Homo sapiens: one gene and its partners. The protein of the gene in region 6 purifies or fractionates together with the protein of the main gene of each other region. This does not show direct contact. Each region holds a gene or a part of one and is shown on either strand. Other genes may lie near its edges. The genes, in order: DRG1, TPST2, FBXO10, NBEAL2, MCTS1 and LARP4.

Region 1 (2,175 bases), on a different chromosome or scaffold from region 6:
AGAATCGCTTGAACCCGGGAGGCGGAGGTTGCGGTGAGCCGAGATCATGCCATTGCACTCCAGCCTGGGCAGCAAGAGCGAAACTCCATCTCAAAAAAAAAAAAAGAAAAAGAAAAAGAAAAAAGCATTTTAGTGGCCCAGGTGGCAACATAGTTCAGCTCAACATTCAACCCAACACTGATGATGTACAGCTGTGCTCTGCATAGGGCAGACAGCCCAGTAAAAGGCTCGGTGCAACAAAAGCCAAGAGTCATTGAGTACTTACAAATTGCTTAGCACAGTATTTGACATATAAGTACCATCTCCCTCCATTACTAACAATCACCACCGCAGAAAGTAAGTGCTATTACTATCCCCATGTTACATGAGGAAACTGAGGCTCATAAAGGTTGGGTAATTTGTTCAGGGCTCCACAGCTAACTAGAGGTGGACCTGCAATTTCAAACCCTGATCTGCCTGGTCGGAGTACTTAATTACATGATCTCCCAAAATAGGTTAGCCTTGCGGGGAGTGATCAATTAACTTACATAAAGTCCTTCCTCTCTCCAGTATCATGTGGGAAAGACTACTTGAAAGGACTGAAAGCCATATCTAGTTTGGAAGGGGTTCCCATAAGTAAACATCAAGTAAGATGCAGCATGTCATATTTTTATCCATTTCACACTCAAGATGAAGTTCCCAAGGATCCCTTCTGTAGCTGCTTCACCGTATATACCCTTCCTCATTCAGCCCATCCCAAAACAAATTCTGACAATGACACATGAGCTGCATGTAGCTGACCAGCCTACCAGATCTTTTATGCAGTTCGACATACAAGGTGACACCAAGGTAAGACAAATGAAGTTCCAGTTTGGGTGCCTCCATCTCCCTCCCCTGGATCCTGATCCAGTGACTGCCAAAACCAGAAAGAACTGGGGTAGGGTGCTTGATCATGGGGAACGCTGTTGTGGTTCGTCCGGCAGATGGGAAAAGGGAAAGGTTTCACTTCTTCACAATTTGAATGACATCCTCATCCTCCAACGTATGGTCTTTACCCACTTTCTGAGGATTGTGTTTCACAGAGAGACCCCAGACCAGAGCACTGCATGGAAGGGAAAAAGAACAGTCAGTGTAAATAATAACCTAGCTTCTGCCCTATTTGCCTGGATGCCACCCTTCTGCTCAGATTTAGTATCATACCCTTAAGAACCATAGACCTACAAAAGCTTTATCTTCCCTAGCAGCATGAGACACTGAAGCCTTAACATAAAAGCCGGTAAAGACTTCTGGAAGTTGTGTGGTTCCTCTTATTGCAGAAAGTCAAAGACAAAAAACATGTTTAGTATAAAGAGCCTAGTTTAAAATTAAAAGAAAGCATGGATTTGTTATAGAGAAATACTCTGGGCCGGGCGCAGGGGCTCATGCCTGTAATCCCACCACTTTGGGAGGCCGAAGGGTGCGGATCACCTGAGATCAGGCGTTCAAGAAAAGCCTGGCCAACATGGTGAAACCCCGTCTCCACTAAAAATACAAAAATTAGCTGGGCATGGTGGCGGGTGCCTGTAATCCCAACTACTCGGGAGGCTGAGGCAGAAGAATGGCTTGAACCCGGGAGGCGGAGGTTGCAGTGAGCCAAGATCATGCCGTTGCACTCCAGGTTGGGCAACGAGCGAAACTCCGCCTCAAAAAAAAAAAAAAAAATCCGTCTTTAATCTTCATAGAGAAATACCCTGAAAATTTCAGACTGATTCTTACAGATACAATATCACTTATAGACTGTTAGAGAATACCTGTTTTTGCTGGGTTTCCTGAAACCATCAGTGGGTACTGACAAGAAATTAGGGCCTCCCTCTTCAGCCATGCCAGGAAAATCTTCCTCCCTAACCAGAAACTGTAATTGATATGTCCTCCCGATTTACTGGAATATGTGAAGGTAATTTATATCCATGGGCCTCCAAACTTAAGAATATGTTGTGCTAGAGATGAAAACTGGTGAATAAGACACCGAGACCTGCCTCACAGAGACTAAGAACTATGTACCAAGAGTAAAAAAGGTGGCCATATTGTTGTTATATTATCATTGAGTCAAAACCTCTTTAAAAAATCTATATTCCAGGCCGGGCACGGTGGCTCATGCCTCTAATTCCAGCACTTTGGGAGGCTGAGGCGGGCGGATCACGAGGTCAGGAGTTCGAG
Region 2 (2,637 bases), on a different chromosome or scaffold from region 6:
TTATTTTTTAAATGTTTGACACACAGTCTCTGATAAATGATCATTCACCAATCACCGATTACTCTCCTTGCTCTGTTAAGTGTGACACTGTCCCTTTGAGAATCTGGCGACAGCTATGTATCCCATCACCACACACCCCAAAAAAAAAATTTATGTCTGGTTCCAGGAGTTACCTTTTATGAGAAGTCCATCTGTGAAGACCCTGGATGTTCAGAGAACTTCCTGGGAAAACACTGAAAGAAAATAAAGAGGCCGGGCCCGGTGGCTCATGCTTGTAATCCCAGCACTTTGGGAGGCTGAGGTGGGCAGATAAGCTGAGGTCAGGAGTTCCAGACCAGCCTGGCCAACGTGGCGAAACCCCATCTACTAAAAATACAAAAATTAGCTGGGCGTCGTGGCGCATGCCTGTAGTTGCAGCTACTTGGGAGGCTGAGGCAGGAGAATTGCTTGAACCCAGGAGGCAGAGGTTGCAGTGAACCAAGATCATGCTAGTACACTCCAGCCTGGGCAACAGAGTGAGACTCCATCTCAAAAATAAAATAAATAAAACAAAATAAAATAAATACAATTTCTGTTTCTAGCCCCTAAGTGGTAGCACTGGGTCTTGTTCCCTGAAAAAAACTAGGCTCAGAATCCACTCTCATTTCATCTCCCCTGATTTGATCTGAAAAGATTTTGTTTAGAGTACTACATGAATATATTATAAAACATGGGACAATCAGAATTGATAGTAAGAAGGCAAGTGGCTCTATTTGTACTTCCTCTCAATAGCTCCTAAAGGTAATGCTACCATTTTCTGTTTGTACATAGTCTTCCAGACTTTAAATTTTTGAACATATAAATATTATCATCTTAAAGACGTATGGAAAAAACCATTTTGAATAGGTTATTCCAAAATGTAATTTAACAGATTGCTCTGGAGGATTGTTTGTTTGTTTGTTTTGGAGACAGAGTCCCGCTTGGTTGCTCAGGCTGCAGTGCAGTGGCACAAACACAGCTCACTGCAACCTCTAACTCCTGCAAACACAGCTCACTGCAACCTCTAACTCCTGCAAACACAGCTCACTGCAACCTCTAACTCCTGCAAACACAGCTCACTGCAACCTCTAACTCCTGCAAACACAGCTCACTGCAACCTCTAACTCCTGGGCTCAAGCAGTCCTTTCACCTCAGCCTCCTGAGTAGCTGGACCATGACACCTACCTAACTTTTTATTTTTTGTAAAGAGGGGAATCACTATGTTGCCCAGGCTGGTCTCAAACTCCTGGGCTCAAGCAATCCTTCCTCAGCCTCTCAAAGAGTTGGGTTTACAGGCGTGAGCCACCGCACCTGGCTCCTGGAGCATTTCTGATGTGAACATGTGCTGATCTAACACCACTCCTTTTACCAGCTGCCTGTTCTAGAGCAAACCATCTTTTTTGAGCATTCCACTTTGGCTAGGCCCTTAGGCTGTTAGCAGTTTTCATCGCTACTGGCAAAGCTGCAGTGGACGTTCTCCTGCACATATAACCTCTTGATGCCACTGTATGAGTGAGTCTCTGCAAAATGAGAAGTAGAATTGCTGGGGTGAAAGGCATACATACTAACTTTTTTGATTAATTCCACCCATGTACCCTGATTTGGGCAGAATTTTAATCTCACTGTGAAATCAGAGCTTTGTTCTAGAGCCTTTCTTGGGGGTTCCATGGATCAGTGGGTCAGCCGTCACTTGTGCCCTGGCCCATCCTCTGTCCAGCTTGGGCAGCATGCATCATTCATTCTGATTCCTTAATTTGCCATATGTGAAAACATGGTAATCTATACATTACTTGGGTGCTATTATTATATATAACTAGCTTTGGAGTCAGAATTAGCGTCTCATCCTGGCTCTACCACTTTCCAACTGTGCGACTGTGGCCAAGTGACTCCCCTTCTCTGAGCCTCAGTTTTCCTCTTCTGTAAAATGGGGGTAAAGGGATAAGAACTATAGGGGGATCTCAGGGGATGGTTAAGAGAAATCCATGAGATAAGCAAACACATTATCTAGTTTAGTAAAGCTAAGCAATGAAGACTTAACAGCCCCATGGTGAAGGCTTAATACATGGTAGCTATAATGATTACTATTAATATTGTGAAATAAAAGGTTGTGATGAACCAACCATATCTTCTCATCAGGATGTATGTTTGTCCAACTGATAGCCATTTGTAGTCATGATCTGGGGTTGGAGAAGGGTCTTCTGCACATGTGCCAGATGGACTGAATATAGATCTTCACTCTCGTTAGCAGCCACCAACCTGGTTGAGCCATCAGGGCCTCCAAAGGGCTTGGCAATTTTTCATTGAAAACAAAAAACAAAAACAAAAAAACTCTTAAACTATGTCTACCCAAAGAATAAATCCTCTACCCTTCCAGGGTAAGGGATGGACAGCTGATGGAATTACAGACCCAGGAAGCTCATGGTTGCCAGTCATTGGGTAGCAGAGGACATCCAGTCTCATTCATTGTTCCACTCATCTCTTGCGGCCCAACCAAGCAGCCCCAAACTGAGTGACTTAAAACAACTTGTTTTTTTGTTTGTTTGTATGTTTTTTTGAGAGCGTTTCACTCTTGTCGCCCAGGCTGGAGTGCAATGGTGTGATCTTGGCTCACTGCAACCT
Region 3 (3,500 bases), on a different chromosome or scaffold from region 6:
GTCATAATTAGTCATAAATAAAGGATAATTAGAAAATGTTAGTATGTTTGGATATTACAAAACACATTTCTCGAATATAATATCTATTGGTTAAAGAAAAAGAATTACAATGGAAATTAGAATATTTTTAGAAATAAACAACAAAGAAGGCTGGGCGCAGTGGCTCATGCCTGTATCCCAGCATTTTGGGAGGCCAAGGCAGGTGGAACACCTGAGGTAAGGAGTTCGAGACCCGCCTGAGCAACATGGTAAAACCCTGTCTCTACTAAAATACAAAAACATTAGCTGGGCATGGTGGCGCATGCATGCAATCCCAGCTACTTGGGAGGCTGAGGAGGCAGGATAATCCCTTGAACCCGGGAGGTGGAGGTTGCAGTGAGCCGAGATTGTGCCATTGCACTCCAGCCTGGGCAACAAGAGTGAAAGTCTGTCTCGGAAAAAAAAAAGAAAAGAAATAAACAACAGAGATACCACATATCAAAACTTGTGAACTCCTGCTGAAACAGAATTTGGAAAAAAATGTATAACCTTAAATAGAGAGAATCAAAAAGATAAAAATTAATGAAACTAAACATCAATTTCAAGAAGTCAGAAAAAGAACAAAATAAATCCAAGGAAAATAGAAGAGAAAAATAAAGAACAGAGCAGAACTTATGAAACAGAAAACAAATTTATTATGAAGACTATCACTGATGATAAGAGCAGGTTCTCTGAAAAGAACCTCTACTAAAACCAAAGAAGAAGGAAAAAAAAGCATTAAAATGAAATCAGAATGAAAGAGGGGATATCTCTATAGATGCTGTACACCAAATGATAAGAAAATATTATAAACGGCCAGGTGCGGTGGCTCACGCCTGTAATCCCAGCACTTTGGGAGGCTGAGGCAGGTGAATCACGAGGTCAAGAGATGGAGACCATCCAGACCAACGTGGTGAAACTCCGTCTCTACTAAAAATACAAAAAATTAGCTGGGCGTGGTGGCACGTGCCTGTAGTCCCAGCTACTCAGGAGGCTGAGGCAGGAGAATCGCTTGAAACCGGAAGGCGGAGGTTGCAGTGAGCTGAGATTGCGCCACTGCAGTCCAGCCTGGCGACAGGGCAAGACTCCGTCTCAAAAAAAAAAAAAAAAATTATAAACAACTTTATATAAGTAAATATGAAGGGATAAACTCCTAGGAAAATATTACTTAGTTAAGAAATTATAAAAACAAAATCACCCTAGAACCATTAAAGACATTGAGTCTGTGGTCAAAAATAAGATTGCAAAGAAAACACACCTGCGAGCCCAGGTGGCTTCATCACCAAGTTCTATCATACATTCAAGGGACAAAGAAGGGGAAACTAAAATGGATGGTGGAAGAGGATGATATGGGTATTTGTTAGATTTCTGGACCAACTGCAGCAGCAAGGGTTGTAATTTGTCTCACTAATCTTCCTCTTATAAGTTTTCCCAGGATTTGTGACTAACCAGAATCCTGGAGAAGCTGTACCTGGATACAGTGAACTTAATATAAGAAGCAAGCCTATCTGTATGGTACAAGAAGTGGACTGTGGAGAATACTACTGGTTCCATCCAGATCATCTTTACTGGTTAGCACACCTGTCACTGAGATGTGGTGTCAGCTGAGAACAACTCACAGATGTCCCTTTCTCCAGAAAACTGCAACTGCCCCCTCACCAGGCTGTGCCTCTCCTCCCCCAATCCAGCTTTCCTCATACTCCTCTTCCTGAGGGCTTCTCCCACAGTCTCACTTGAACAAGAATCTCTATTTTATGCCCTGCTTCTACAGAATGGGATCGAAGATATCACCATTTAAGAGGGTGAAAAGAGAGCCATATATATATATATATATATATATATATATATATTTCCTTATTGAAAAATCAATTTAAAAAATTTAAAAATGGCAAGAGACATGAATAGACAGTTCACAAAAGAGGCAATCCAATTAACCAACAAAAAACTGCTCAAGGGCTGGGCATGGTAGCTCACACCTGTAATCCCAGCACTTGGGGAGGCTGACATGGGAGAATAGTTTGAGTCCAGGAGTTTGAGACCAGCCTGGAAAATATGGCAAGACCTGGTCTCTACAAAAAAAAATAAAATAATTATCTGGCTGTCCCAGCTGCTCAGGGGGCTGAGGTGGGAGAGATCTCTTGAGCCTAGGAGGTTGAGGCTACAGTAAGCCATGATCACGCCACTGCAATCCAGCCTGGGTGACAAAGCAAGACCCTGTTTCCAAAAAAAAGAAAAAAGAAAAAAGTGCTCAACCTCAAGAGTAACCAAGGAGAGCAAGTTAAAACCACAAGAAATATCAAGACACACACATGAAAATAGTTAAAATATTAAAACCAATAAAAGCAACTATTTGCCAGGATATGAAGCAACTGGAACTCTCATATACTCCTGGTAGGAAAGTAAACTGTTCGACACTATCTAGTAAAGCAATTGTACTCTAACATATATAACCTAAAGAAACTTGTTCAAATACATCAGAAAATATCTAAGGATGTACTTGGCAGTCAGAAACTATAAGCAACTCAAGTATCCATCAACCACAGGATGAATACATCTATTGTGACACAGCCATACCATGAAACACTGTTGGCAACGAAAATAAGTGAGGCCGCCACGTGGATGCATCTCACAAACAAGTTGAGCAAAAGAAGCAAAACACAAAATGCAAAAGTATGATTCTATATGTATGAAATTAAAAAACTTAAAACTATATTGTTTAGGGATATATACATAGGTGATATAATTACAAAGAAAAGCAAAAAAATGATTATCACAAGATGATTTCTTCTAGGGGAGGAAATTATGATTTGGAAGCAGGTACTGAGTATTGGCAATGTTCCAGTTCTTGACATGTTGGTGATTACGTGTGTATTTCCTTTAGAGTTATTTGCTAAACTATATATTGTGTTTTTTACCATGCATATTTGCTGTATTTCATATTCAAAAAGTTTAAAACAAATAAATGAAATAAATATACTGATTATTGTTTCTTAGAAAAATTGAGAAAACTAAAATCCTTTATTTTTAAATTAAAACCTTGCCTGCAAAATCCCTAACAGGGTACATGCCAAGTAAATTTTCCAGAATGCCTAAATCTGTGTGGCTCAGGGTGACCTGACGACCCCTCTTTACATATGGAAAAGTAAGGTGAGTAGGCACCCAAAGTCCTGGGGTAGCTATCTTGTTGAAGGCTGTCATTCCTGAGAATCATCGGTAGGCAGAACCCTGGAGAGTATGTGGAACCAATTTGCCAAAGGGATTTGGGTTAAGGTTAAGAAGAGAAGGGACTGAGCCCACAAACTCTGATAAGAAGTTTGAAAACAGAGACATCTCTTGGGTGGTCTAGATGACCATGACCAAGGTTGCTAGCAGGAAGGGCCCCAAATGCCCTAAAAGAGAACTCTCCAGGACACCAGGGGAACCCAGCCTGGTGAAAAGCTCAACAAAAGCCCAGAGTGAGGTGCTTTGGGGAGAATGGCTGA
Region 4 (3,500 bases), on a different chromosome or scaffold from region 6:
GTAAGCTCTAAGAAAATGACCACATGCGGTGAACACATAGGGTTACCTCATGAAGACAGAGCCAGGGTAGGGGCTATGGAGGTTGGGGCCCACAGGTTGAGCCCCCAGAAAGGGTGCCCGCTGTGAAGCTGCCAGCTGACACCCTGCAGCCTCCTACAGCCCACATGCAAGGTGAATCAGGGATCACATCATCAGGGGCTGGGGGACACCCAGTGACCCGCTGAGGGTGGGTGCAAGAATCTACAGAAAGAAATGGCACCATGAGGGAGACCCCTTTCTCTGTGACTATAGCCAAATCCTTGAGTGTCTGGGCTTCTGTCTCCCCTTCTGAGAAATGAGGTAGGTGGCTGAGTTTCGAAGGTTCCATCCAGCTTGGCACAGCCAGACCCCCAACACCCAATCAAACACCAGGCAGGGGATAGACCACCTTCTGTCCTGTTCCCTAGGATGGGGACTTGGAAGGCAGGCGAGACAGCATGGAGGACCCACACCCATTTCTAGACCACACCAGGCCTTACACACATCTGCTCATTTCCCCAGCTATAGTGCAGGAAAAGCTCAAAGAGGGAGTCCCAGGGGGTGTCTGAGCTGGTCAGCCCCAGGATGGTACCTTTTGGACATCGGGCTCAGTCAGTAACCGGGTAGCCAGGTCACTGTCCCCCTCGGGGGGCGCCCGGGACTGCAGGTACAGCTGTGGGGAAGTGGGGAGGCACAGGGTGGAGGAGGCAAAGAAGAGAGGAGGAAGATGGGAGAGGGTGGGGTTAGAGCAGGACCAGGGGCAGCTGCCAGGTGCCCTGCCCGGCACTAGGGAAGAGTAGGGTGCTGAGCCCCCTGTGCCCTGCTCAGATGGGCAGTCGGGGGGATGAGCGGGTGGGAGCAGGCACTGCATCTGAAAGCAGTGGTGCCCTCCTCTAGCCCCTGTACTTGGGGCCACGGAAAGGGAAACAAGGCACCAGAGCAGCTCCCTTCCTTCCATAACAAGCCCCGCTTCCATGGGGCACAAAGATGTCCTAAGCCTCAAGCCCAGTCCTATAGAGGCCCCAAGGGATGGGCCCTTGTCCATGCCCCACACCCTCCCACTGAACTGCAAGCCATCCCACCAGCTGCAAAACACTGACTCTGTCCAGCCCATGTTTGCTCAGCAGCAGCCTGGCACCTATGCGTGGCTCCCCTAGCCTCTGGCTTCCAGACCCTCACCCCCAGGCTGGGCCCTACCCACCTTGCTGTTCTGAATGAGCCGAGTGAGGTGTTCAAAGCAATTGTTGCTGAGGAAGGTGGCTTGCAGCACTGGCCGGTCTTCACATGCCAGCATCATGGGGATGGCGTCTGTGGAAGGGTCAAGGGTCAGGCCCTGCCCAGACCCCTCTAGGCAGCCTTAAGCCTTCCTTCCTATGCTGCCCTATCCAGACCTTCCATCATCACTTAGGCTTTTCCCTCATGGTGCCCCTTCCCCAAGAGCCTGGGAGCCCATACCCACCGAGCATGCTGACCCGGAGGGTGACAAGGGCCTCTTCGGGGCCTGAGCTCAGACCAGCTGGCCAGTCAGCATTAAGGACATGGAAGTAGCTCTCAAGCAGGGCACGAAGCTCTGGGCCACGAGGAGGTGCGCGGCTGGCATGCAAGACATGGACTGCACCTACCAGTGCCTCTAGAGCCAGTGGCACTAGGCACGGGTCCGGGGCTGGCCCACGGCTCCAGCCCCGCACCACACTCAGCAGGCCCTTCACAGAGCCATCACTTACAGCCATCTGCCCGTTCTCCTGCAGGTGTGGACAGAGATGGGCAGTGGGCAAGGGGCTCACCCAGCAGAGAGATACTGAAAGAGCTGCTCTCTAGTCCACAGGCTCACCTCCCAGCCTACCTTTCCTCCAGCGAGGACGGCGCAGAAGAGGTGGATGAGACGTAACAGCAGTATGGGAGGCAAGTGGTCTGCATTCTGTAGGCTCTCTGGGTAGGGGGGTGTGGGCAGGGTAATGTCACCAAGGTTGCAGGGCTATGGACCCAGGGGGCTGCACAAGAGGTGAGTGCCCTGGGGTGGAGGGGAGAGGGAGCTGGGCCAAGTAAAAGATCCAGTGTGAGGGATAAGAGCTGGCTCTGCCCTGGGGGGCATCTAAGGAGTTATGGCTGTATAGTAGAGGGCCTGAAAGGGACAACCCTTCTTTGGGGGACTTAAGGGTGACAAAGACCAGCCCTGAGAGTCTAGCCAGCTTCCCAGATCCTTAAGCCCCAAAGTGAGGGCCCCAGCATGAGCACATACCCTTCCACTTCCCCATGATGACCAGGGCTTAGTTTCTCAGATGCAAATCTCTTGCTGCCTCTGCCCTGTGACGGTTGGTGCTTCCCATGCCGTGCTCTGGGGACTCTGCTGTATCTACTATACTGATGCCACCTCCCCCCACGCCCATGCCTTTGCCTGGGACTTCTAGGGGCTTTCACAACCTAATACGTAGGAGGCCCACCTGGCCCTGCGCCAGCAAAACTGGACAGGATGCCAGGCCAGGGACTGAAACTCAGAGGGCAGAAGGGACTAGCCCCGGGTCACATGCCTGGCAGAGGAGGAAGAGTAGGGCTGGGGCTTGATTCCGGCTGGATGGGTGGGAGGCCTCCTTGGGGATGGGGCTTTTGAGGGGAGACCTGAGAATGCAGTTGGAGGGGAGAAGGCACAGCATGGGCTAAGACCCTGAGGTGGGGTCAGTGGTAGCAGTCTGGGAATGAGAGGACAGAAGCCAGGCTGAGCAGCAGGGCAAGTGGAGAGAAAGGCTGTGGGAGGAGTAGGATTTCATCTTGAGGACGTCAGGTTGACATCAAGGGATATGATGGGAGGAGAAATGAAATCCAGTTTGTTTTAATAACAGCACCCAGGCTATGGGAAAATAAAGTCGAGGAGCTCCCTAGGGGTGCCTCCCCTCCTGGAGTTGCTGCCCCAACTCTAGATCCAGGCCCACAGCTCCATGGGGGCATCACTGAGACATTTAATATCCCAATAGGTCACCACCTTTTCACAGCCCTGCCCACCTCTGTCCAGGCCATATCCCACCCTGAGCCTATCTAAAGTCCTGGCCAGTCTCCCTCCAATGAGAGGAGAGAGGGGACCCAGGGGTGGAGGGTCACCAGGGAGAACAGGTTCACAGGACCACCTGTGAACAGGCAGCCACAGCTGTCCTGGGCACCAGATCCTCCAGCAGCCAGGGAACAGGAGGTGGAGATACCTCCTGTGTCTCCGGGATGGGTGGAGATGCGTGGAGGCTATGGGGACAAAGGGATTGGACCAGAGAGTTTTAAGATCACAGTAGGGTACAAGTGGCTAGAAGGATCCAGGAGATGGCGGGGAAAGAGGATGAGAAATCTGGGTAGGCAGGTTGACCCCACCCCTCCACCTGATGGGAGGCCCTCGCTCCAGCCCAAGATGTCTTCTCTTGTCTCTGTCCCTAAACTCTTGCTTGGTCTTTGGTTCTCCCAGTCCTGCATGCAGCCACCACCAAGTGGTTCCTGTGTATGGC
Region 5 (3,500 bases), on a different chromosome or scaffold from region 6:
TGGCTGTTCCAGCTGGGTCTCCCAGGATGTAACATAGGTGGACATAGATCCAGGGTCTGACCCTCAGCTTGAGAAACCATTTCCCACTGATGAAACTTGAGAGACTTGGAGATTCCCCAGTTAGAATATAAATGTATTAATTCATAGTGATAGGTCTGCCTATGGTAAACAATTAGGAAACAGGAAGTTACTTGGTAAACACAGGTATGAGCAAAGGAAGATTGATAAATTGGGGTAATATTTCAGTTGTGCTGAGGTAAGACTTGGAGAATTTTTCCTGCTTCATCATTAATTAGAATGCTTATCTCTGCCAAAATCTCATCTCTTTCCTAGCCCATAGAGGTGCCCTGATATTTTATTTCCTATATCCTTTTCAAGTTCCATGTAGTTTTCCTTATGTTATGACAGTTTTATTCTGCAGCTTACCATATTATTTATTCCTGGTCCACGAAAGTATAAATAGTCTCATCAGGAACTCATTTGTAAGTCATCTCCCAGGGGGGTTTCTTCAACAGATAGTTTAATTTTTTGCTGACTTACTGGCTTCAAATTCAGATGTCTCCCTATTTGGGGGAGGAGGCACCCTATTTGAGGCCTGTAGCTCCTTATGTTCTTAAAAAGAATATACAAGTCATTTATGTCAGAATCAAACTTTGAACCTTTATTTTTGTTGCTAAGAGAATGTTTTTTGACCAAGACTGCCTATGGAGTATTAGCAATGAAAAACAAAGCACACATATACATACATTAGAGAAGTAAAAACTTTTAATAGCTTGGTTTTTGAAATAATTCATCTTTGTGTCTAACCACTGTTACAGTGGGTGTAAGGAACACTTTTTAAATATTCAACATCAACATCTGTGCTTGTTTTTCTACTGTGCTGAGGTACACTGTGTTGCCTTGGTGATATGGACTAAATATGTATGTTCTCTGCTTCCCCTGGGTCTGAGGCCTCTGCTCATCACTGTTAATCAGGGATGTCACTCTACATGTGTGATCCTTGTCATTTTCTAAACATTAGGTCATACATGAAAGGCAATTCAAAGAGATTAAACTAGCAGATGTGTCAGCATCTTTAGATACTGTGCTTAATGGAAACTTAGTTTACCTATATTCGTGAGAATAGGAATACAGGGATAGAGAGCCTGCTTCTCTCAGGCAGTGTGTCTTTAGTTCATTTTTAGTTTCAAAATTAAGTTTGTGTCAAACCAACCTACAATCTAGTAACTTGTGTATTGGACTCACTTTTACTCAGACAAGGTCAGTTCAGCTCAATAGGTATTTATTGAGTATCTACTAGGTTCTAAGTGACGTGGCATGAAGATGAATAATACAGAAGTAGCCCTTGCTCTTAAGGAGCTTCCAATCTAGTGAGTAAAGAAAATTTACATTTTAAATAATCTGGGTAATGGTGACAGCCCAATACTAATATGTAAAGCCAGTAGGAATGTACTAATCCTTTTCCAATTTTAGTCATCAAAAATTGTAAATTACAAATGAACTAAATGTAGTAATATTCCATAGATTGTATCCAATGTGAGGGTAAAAAAAAAATCCCAGATGTCTTGGAGTTGCCGTGATTCAGCATCCCAACTCAGATGATTGTCCTGTTGTCCGGTGACATAATGGCCTGATCAGTTCTCTTCTAGCAGACTGTCTGTTATGGTGGTTTGGTAGTGGTCTGTTGGGAAGCTGCATTTTTCCTTTTCTGTTTTTATGCTCTGGACCCCAAACAAAAACAGCTGGATTTATCCCATGGGTAGTCATGAACATTTCCAATTTGAGGGATTTTATATTCCCCAAACAGAAGGTTATATGGCATATATCAAATAATAATGATATCCAGCCAGGTTCCCTGTCGTACCCAAATCAGTAACTGAAGATACGTATTTCTAAGTATAATACTTCAGAGGAAGAGATAAGAATTACAATTCACTAAATTCGTGGAGGTGTTTCATTATAATAAATATGTCACTTATTAATAATGTAGCAATTATATATTAATGGAAATATGAATGTATGCCCAAGCAAAATGTCATAAATATTTTAACTTTGTTTGTCTAGGTTCCTTAATTTTGAGACTATAATTATCAAGGCTCTTCAAGAAACTCAAAATGATTCTAATTTCTAAGTAGTATGCATTAAAACTGATATATAATGAAAGAAAAACAGTGAAAATGTATGCATCAGTTTCTAAAGAAATCATACTTGTCATTGTAGAGATGCATGTAAATTAAATGTATTATACATTTTTATACTTGTATGTATTTTATACTTTGTATGAATACTTTTATTACACTTTTTAAGGCAGGTAAAAGAATGAGTAGATGTTATCAACTATAACAACAATTTGTTGAATACTGTGTTAAAACCAAGTAAAGGACCACAACTCCACGAGATCAGGAATGAATGAAGAAAATTGAGGGCCAGTTTTTAAATCATTGTTGAGACTATTAGGTTCATCTGTCTGTTTAAGAGTCTGGCCTTAGGGAATATAATTTATGCATGTAAAAAAATACAGGAGATGATTCACTGGAATGTCTCTTAATAATACCATGTTCATTAAGAATAGGTCATTGGGAGGAAAAATAAATAAAAACATCTGAACTCATTAGTATAATTAATACTTGCCTCTTAGAATGAAAATTAAAGAACTCCAAATTTTAGCCTTGAATACTTTGAGAAATAAAAGATGAATTAGTGAAATAATTTCTACTTAAAATCTTAGTTGTTACAGAGAATGACATGCCTCACTATTAATGTCCAATTCTAATTAATGGATTGTTTTAGAAATGTATTTGTGAAATATAGCAAACATAGCTAGTAATACTAACAGGTGAAAACTGATATTTCAAATGACTAAATAGACTTAAGATTAGAGGAAGGTAGGAAAAGGTGTGCAACTAACAGAAGCAGTTAACCAAAAAATGAGCTTCAGGCATCAGTCTTATTTGGAAGACTGTAAATCAACAGGCTAACGTTCAAAATATGGCAGACATCTTAATATCAATATATGCTAAATTGGTTTATCTTTAGGCAGAAACAGAAAGCAAAAAATTAAACTCATCCAACTCATACATTTGTTGTTGTTGTTGTTGTTGTTGTTTTTGAGATGGAGTCTTGCTTCATTGCCCAGGCTGGAGTGCAATGGCACGATCTCGGCTCACTGCAACCTCTGTCTTCCGGGTTCAAGCGATTCTCCTGCCTCAGCCTCCCGAGTAGCTGGGATCCCATGCGTGTGCCACCACACCTAGCTAATTTTTGTATTTTTAGTAGAGACAGGGTTTCACCATGTTGGCCAGGCTGGTCTCAAACTCCTGACCTCAGGTGATGCACCCGCCTTGGCCTCCCAAAGTGCTGGGATTACAGGTGTGAACCACCACACCCGACCCAACTAATACATTTTTAAAATCCCATTTTAAAAGTAAAACCACAGTTTTCATATAACAAATGTTATTGCTCTTCATTTCATTCTCCAATTTTAAAATGCTTTACTTTCA
Region 6 (3,310 bases):
TTTCTTCAACCATCTTTCTCATCTTTACTAAAAAATCTCATGACTTGCTGGTACTGTTTCAGTGAATTCCAAACTGTATTTTGTTGGGTGTGGGGGGAGAAGAGGAGGGAAGGAAGGTAATACACTGTAAACAGAAATAAGTCCCCCCTCCCAAATTAAGCCTTTAAAAAAAATTTTTTTACTTCTACATTATTTAACACTTAAGAGTCAGTTACTATGCTTAATCTTTAACACTAACGACAAATAAATTACTGTACGGTCAGTCTGCCCTACCATCTTGGGAGCTAAAATTCTAAATGTGTGAACAGAAGAGTTAATACTTCAATGTTCAATTCTGAAATTTAGAACAATTTATATGATTTGACTAGACTGCTCAAAGCAATTACAAACACACAATTGAGTAGGTAGTTGGTTATTTTGCTTTTCTGTGGGTGGGCAGTCAAAGAACAGAGAGTAACAAATGGAGTAAGAAAAAAAATTTTGTTTCTCATTTTGGGGGTATTCGGGGGAATCACAGGGAAGTTTAAACCTCTGAAATCCATTTGACCTATGCACTGAGGTCCAAGATGAAATTTTCAATTTCTTGAATAACCCCCTTTCCTTGAGTATCAAACTGATTGGTAGTCACATCTCTAAGTACAATCAGAGTTTTACAACTTGTTAAATGAAATATTAGTAAGGTCAAAAAGACAGACTAAATTTCAAACTAGAAAAAAAAATCTACTCAAGTATTACATTCAGTTTTCAAATCATTTACTAACATGACAACAGATTTGGCTTCAATCGCTCTTGTACACACTCACACCCACAACAGGCACCCCAGCCACTGATCCGCTTTGCAATACAAGGCCATATAGTCAGAGATGGCATTCTTCAAGCCAAACTTTAAATAGATTAAAAAAAGTAATTTCTAATTTTACAGAAATGCTTCTTCAAAAAATATTTTCTCTCATTCCCTCATCTCCTATACTGAAGGATGTATGTTTCTTTTTTTTCTTCCAAGCTAAATCTGAACCCTCAAAATTGATTCCTGGCAGCAAATCTCTGCAAATTAAAACCAAAAACAAAAATAGAAAAATTATACTTTTTATATATGTGTGTGTATATATATATATATATTTATATTGATTGGAATCCTCCAGCATTTAAAAACCACATTAGAGATGAATTTTGGGATCCTATCACTCACAACTCCAAAATCCATAATGAAATGGACGTACTTTCTCTTGTTTCCTTCCTGGCTACCCCCTCCCCTCCAAAACAGTTCAATATAGCCACAGTTCAAGTTTAATGGGAAGAGAGTGAAGTTTTTGAATAGTTTTGTTGTTTTTTACTTTGGTGATCTGGGTGGCACATATTGCTCTTTGCCATTACGTCGAGTCACTCCCTGAGGTATAGCCCTATGGCTAAACTGGCGTCTCTGTTCCCTGATTTTTCCTGCTGCTCCCCTGGGGATTATATTGCCTCGGAAGCCAGAATAATCCTTACTAGCCCTTGCTTCTGGCTTCTCATGTGGTTTCTCAACGGAGTTCTCAGGAGCTCCATTGTCTTCATTTTTGGTGGGAGACACCACATTGGAGCGAAGTTCCCGTAGTGGCTGCACAAGAACTGAAGATGGCTCTTTAGGGGGCTTCTGGCACACTTCAGCATAACTTAACTTTCGGGGTTCCTTTGAAGTGATGATAAAAAAAAACATTTATGGTACACATTCTTTAAATTATAAAGTATAAAAATGATTGTGTTAACCATAAGAAAACCACAGATTATCTTCCAGAAAAGGGCAACAAGCACTCTCATATATACTGCTTAGAGTACACTGGTACAATCTTTATTTATTATACAATAATTTCACGTAAGGAATTTAACTGAAGGATGTTCATGTCAGCGTTGTTTATAATGATGGGAGCGACCTAAATGCCTAACAAAGGACAGATTAGATGAATAATGGTATAGCCATATGATGAAATAAAATGGTTCTTTCTGCTCCTGTTTCCTTGCTACAAAGAACCCCAAGAAAGATGACAAAAGAATCCCAGCAGAGCAGTTAGAATCCAATGGTATAAAAAGACTCATTAAAAGTCTTAATTACCTCAACTGAAAAAGGTGGAATAGAGGTATTGTGAGAACAGAATAAAACATGTAAAGTCTTCAGCACTAGTCCTAATAATATATAGTAAGCATTCAAATGGTAGCTATTATTTTAGTATTATTACTATCATTGAATGAGAAGATAGTCTTCTAAATCTATTTTTAAAAGTGCTGTACTAAAATGCTAGGGATTATAGGTAAATTTTGTGTTTTGTTCTGCTTTTCTGTATTTTCCCAATTATATAACTATAAAACAATTCTGGAACTTGATAAATGGGAGTGGCCTCTCAATGGCCACTTATAGACTTGTTAAGTATCACATATACAACCAAAAGAATATCAAGAGGCACAAGGCCTCTTTATGTTAGCCCCAAAATGATAAATTCATCCTAACGTGGGTAAGGAAGAAGCTTCACTTAACCATATGAACAGAAAAAAAGCAATCAAAAGAAACAGAATGGGCCAGGCGCGGTGGCTCACGCATGTAATCCCAGCACTTTGGGAGGCCGAGGCGGGTGGATCACGAGGTCAGGAGATTGAGACCATCCTGGCTAACACAGTGAAACCCCGTCTCTACTAAAAATACAAAAAATTAGCCAGGCATAGTGGTGGGCACCTGTAGTCCCAGCTACCCGGGAGGCTGAGGCAGGAGAATGGCGTGAACCCGGGAGGCGGAGCTTGCAGTGACGCGAGATCGTGCCACTGCACTCCAGCCTGGGCGACAGAGTGAAGACTCAGTCTCCAAAACAAAACAAAAAAAAGCCTAAAACTTTCCATCTCTTTGCAGTGACCCTAACACTCCTTAAGCTTCTTTCTGATAGTCAGCCCCAACTTGGGCTACTTCCAAATGACTCTGTTCTAACAAAGTGTTACGTGAAAAAAAAAAAAAAATCTAATCTATTGTATTTTTTTTAACATAAACTAAAATCTTCAAGTTACCTGTAGAGCCACAGCTGTAGCTGCATTTATGTTATTATTACATGGTGAAGCAGTACTTGCCCTCGATGGCTTTGTAGTACTTGGAGGAGAAACTGGTATAGTTGTCTGATTGAGACCATCCTTCTGAACAGAGGAATCTTCTATTAGATCCTTTTCTTGCTGAGTTGTGCTAAGGAAAAAAGAGCTTGCAATTAGACTCAGAATAGCATATAGGAACAGTTGAGCAACTAATCAGAAGAAAACGTAATTTTTTTTTTTGAGACGGAGTCTCACTCTGTCACCC

Evidence for each region.
Region 1: the proteins of LARP4 (region 6) and DRG1 fractionate together in Homo sapiens (co-fractionation; one large-scale study listed by BioGRID). This does not show direct contact.
Region 2: the proteins of LARP4 (region 6) and TPST2 purify together in Homo sapiens (affinity purification with mass spectrometry; one large-scale study listed by BioGRID and IntAct). This does not show direct contact.
Region 3: the proteins of LARP4 (region 6) and FBXO10 purify together in Homo sapiens (affinity purification with mass spectrometry; one large-scale study listed by BioGRID and IntAct). This does not show direct contact.
Region 4: the proteins of LARP4 (region 6) and NBEAL2 purify together in Homo sapiens (tandem affinity purification; one large-scale study listed by IntAct). This does not show direct contact.
Region 5: the proteins of LARP4 (region 6) and MCTS1 fractionate together in Homo sapiens (co-fractionation; one large-scale study listed by BioGRID). This does not show direct contact.

The regions. Positions count from the first base shown.
Region 1 is NC_000022.11:31,432,778-31,434,952, reverse strand, and holds the end of DRG1 (developmentally-regulated GTP-binding protein 1), read right to left. Parts: intron 1,082-2,175; coding exon 982-1,081; 3' UTR 501-981; downstream 1-500. UniProt on the Homo sapiens protein: Catalyzes the conversion of GTP to GDP through hydrolysis of the gamma-phosphate bond in GTP. Appears to have an intrinsic GTPase activity that is stimulated by ZC3H15/DFRP1 binding likely by increasing the affinity for the potassium ions.
Region 2 is NC_000022.11:26,521,496-26,524,132, reverse strand, and holds the end of TPST2 (protein-tyrosine sulfotransferase 2), read left to right. Parts: 3' UTR 1-2,137; downstream 2,138-2,637. UniProt on the Homo sapiens protein: Catalyzes the O-sulfation of tyrosine residues within acidic motifs of polypeptides, using 3'-phosphoadenylyl sulfate (PAPS) as cosubstrate.
Region 3 is NC_000009.12:37,569,881-37,573,380, forward strand, and holds part of FBXO10 (F-box only protein 10), read right to left. Parts: intron 1-3,500. UniProt on the Homo sapiens protein: Substrate-recognition component of the SCF (SKP1-CUL1-F-box protein)-type E3 ubiquitin ligase complex. Mediates the ubiquitination and degradation of BCL2, an antiapoptotic protein, thereby playing a role in apoptosis by controlling the stability of BCL2.
Region 4 is NC_000003.12:46,989,666-46,993,165, reverse strand, and holds part of NBEAL2 (neurobeachin-like protein 2), read right to left. Parts: intron 3,498-3,500; exon of another isoform or gene 2,274-3,497; coding exon of another isoform or gene 2,258-2,273; intron 1,948-2,257; coding exon 1,862-1,947; intron 1,761-1,861; coding exon 1,478-1,760; intron 1,327-1,477; coding exon 1,220-1,326; intron 692-1,219; coding exon 611-691; intron 1-610. UniProt on the Homo sapiens protein: Probably involved in thrombopoiesis. Plays a role in the development or secretion of alpha-granules, that contain several growth factors important for platelet biogenesis.
Region 5 is NC_000023.11:120,614,101-120,617,600, forward strand, and holds part of MCTS1 (malignant T-cell-amplified sequence 1), read left to right. Parts: 3' UTR 1-3,500. UniProt on the Homo sapiens protein: Translation regulator forming a complex with DENR to promote translation reinitiation.
Region 6 is NC_000012.12:50,473,885-50,477,194, reverse strand, and holds part of LARP4 (la-related protein 4), read right to left. Parts: intron 3,197-3,310; coding exon 3,028-3,196; intron 1,670-3,027; coding exon 1,331-1,669; 3' UTR 1-1,330. UniProt on the Homo sapiens protein: RNA binding protein that binds to the poly-A tract of mRNA molecules. Associates with the 40S ribosomal subunit and with polysomes. Plays a role in the regulation of mRNA translation.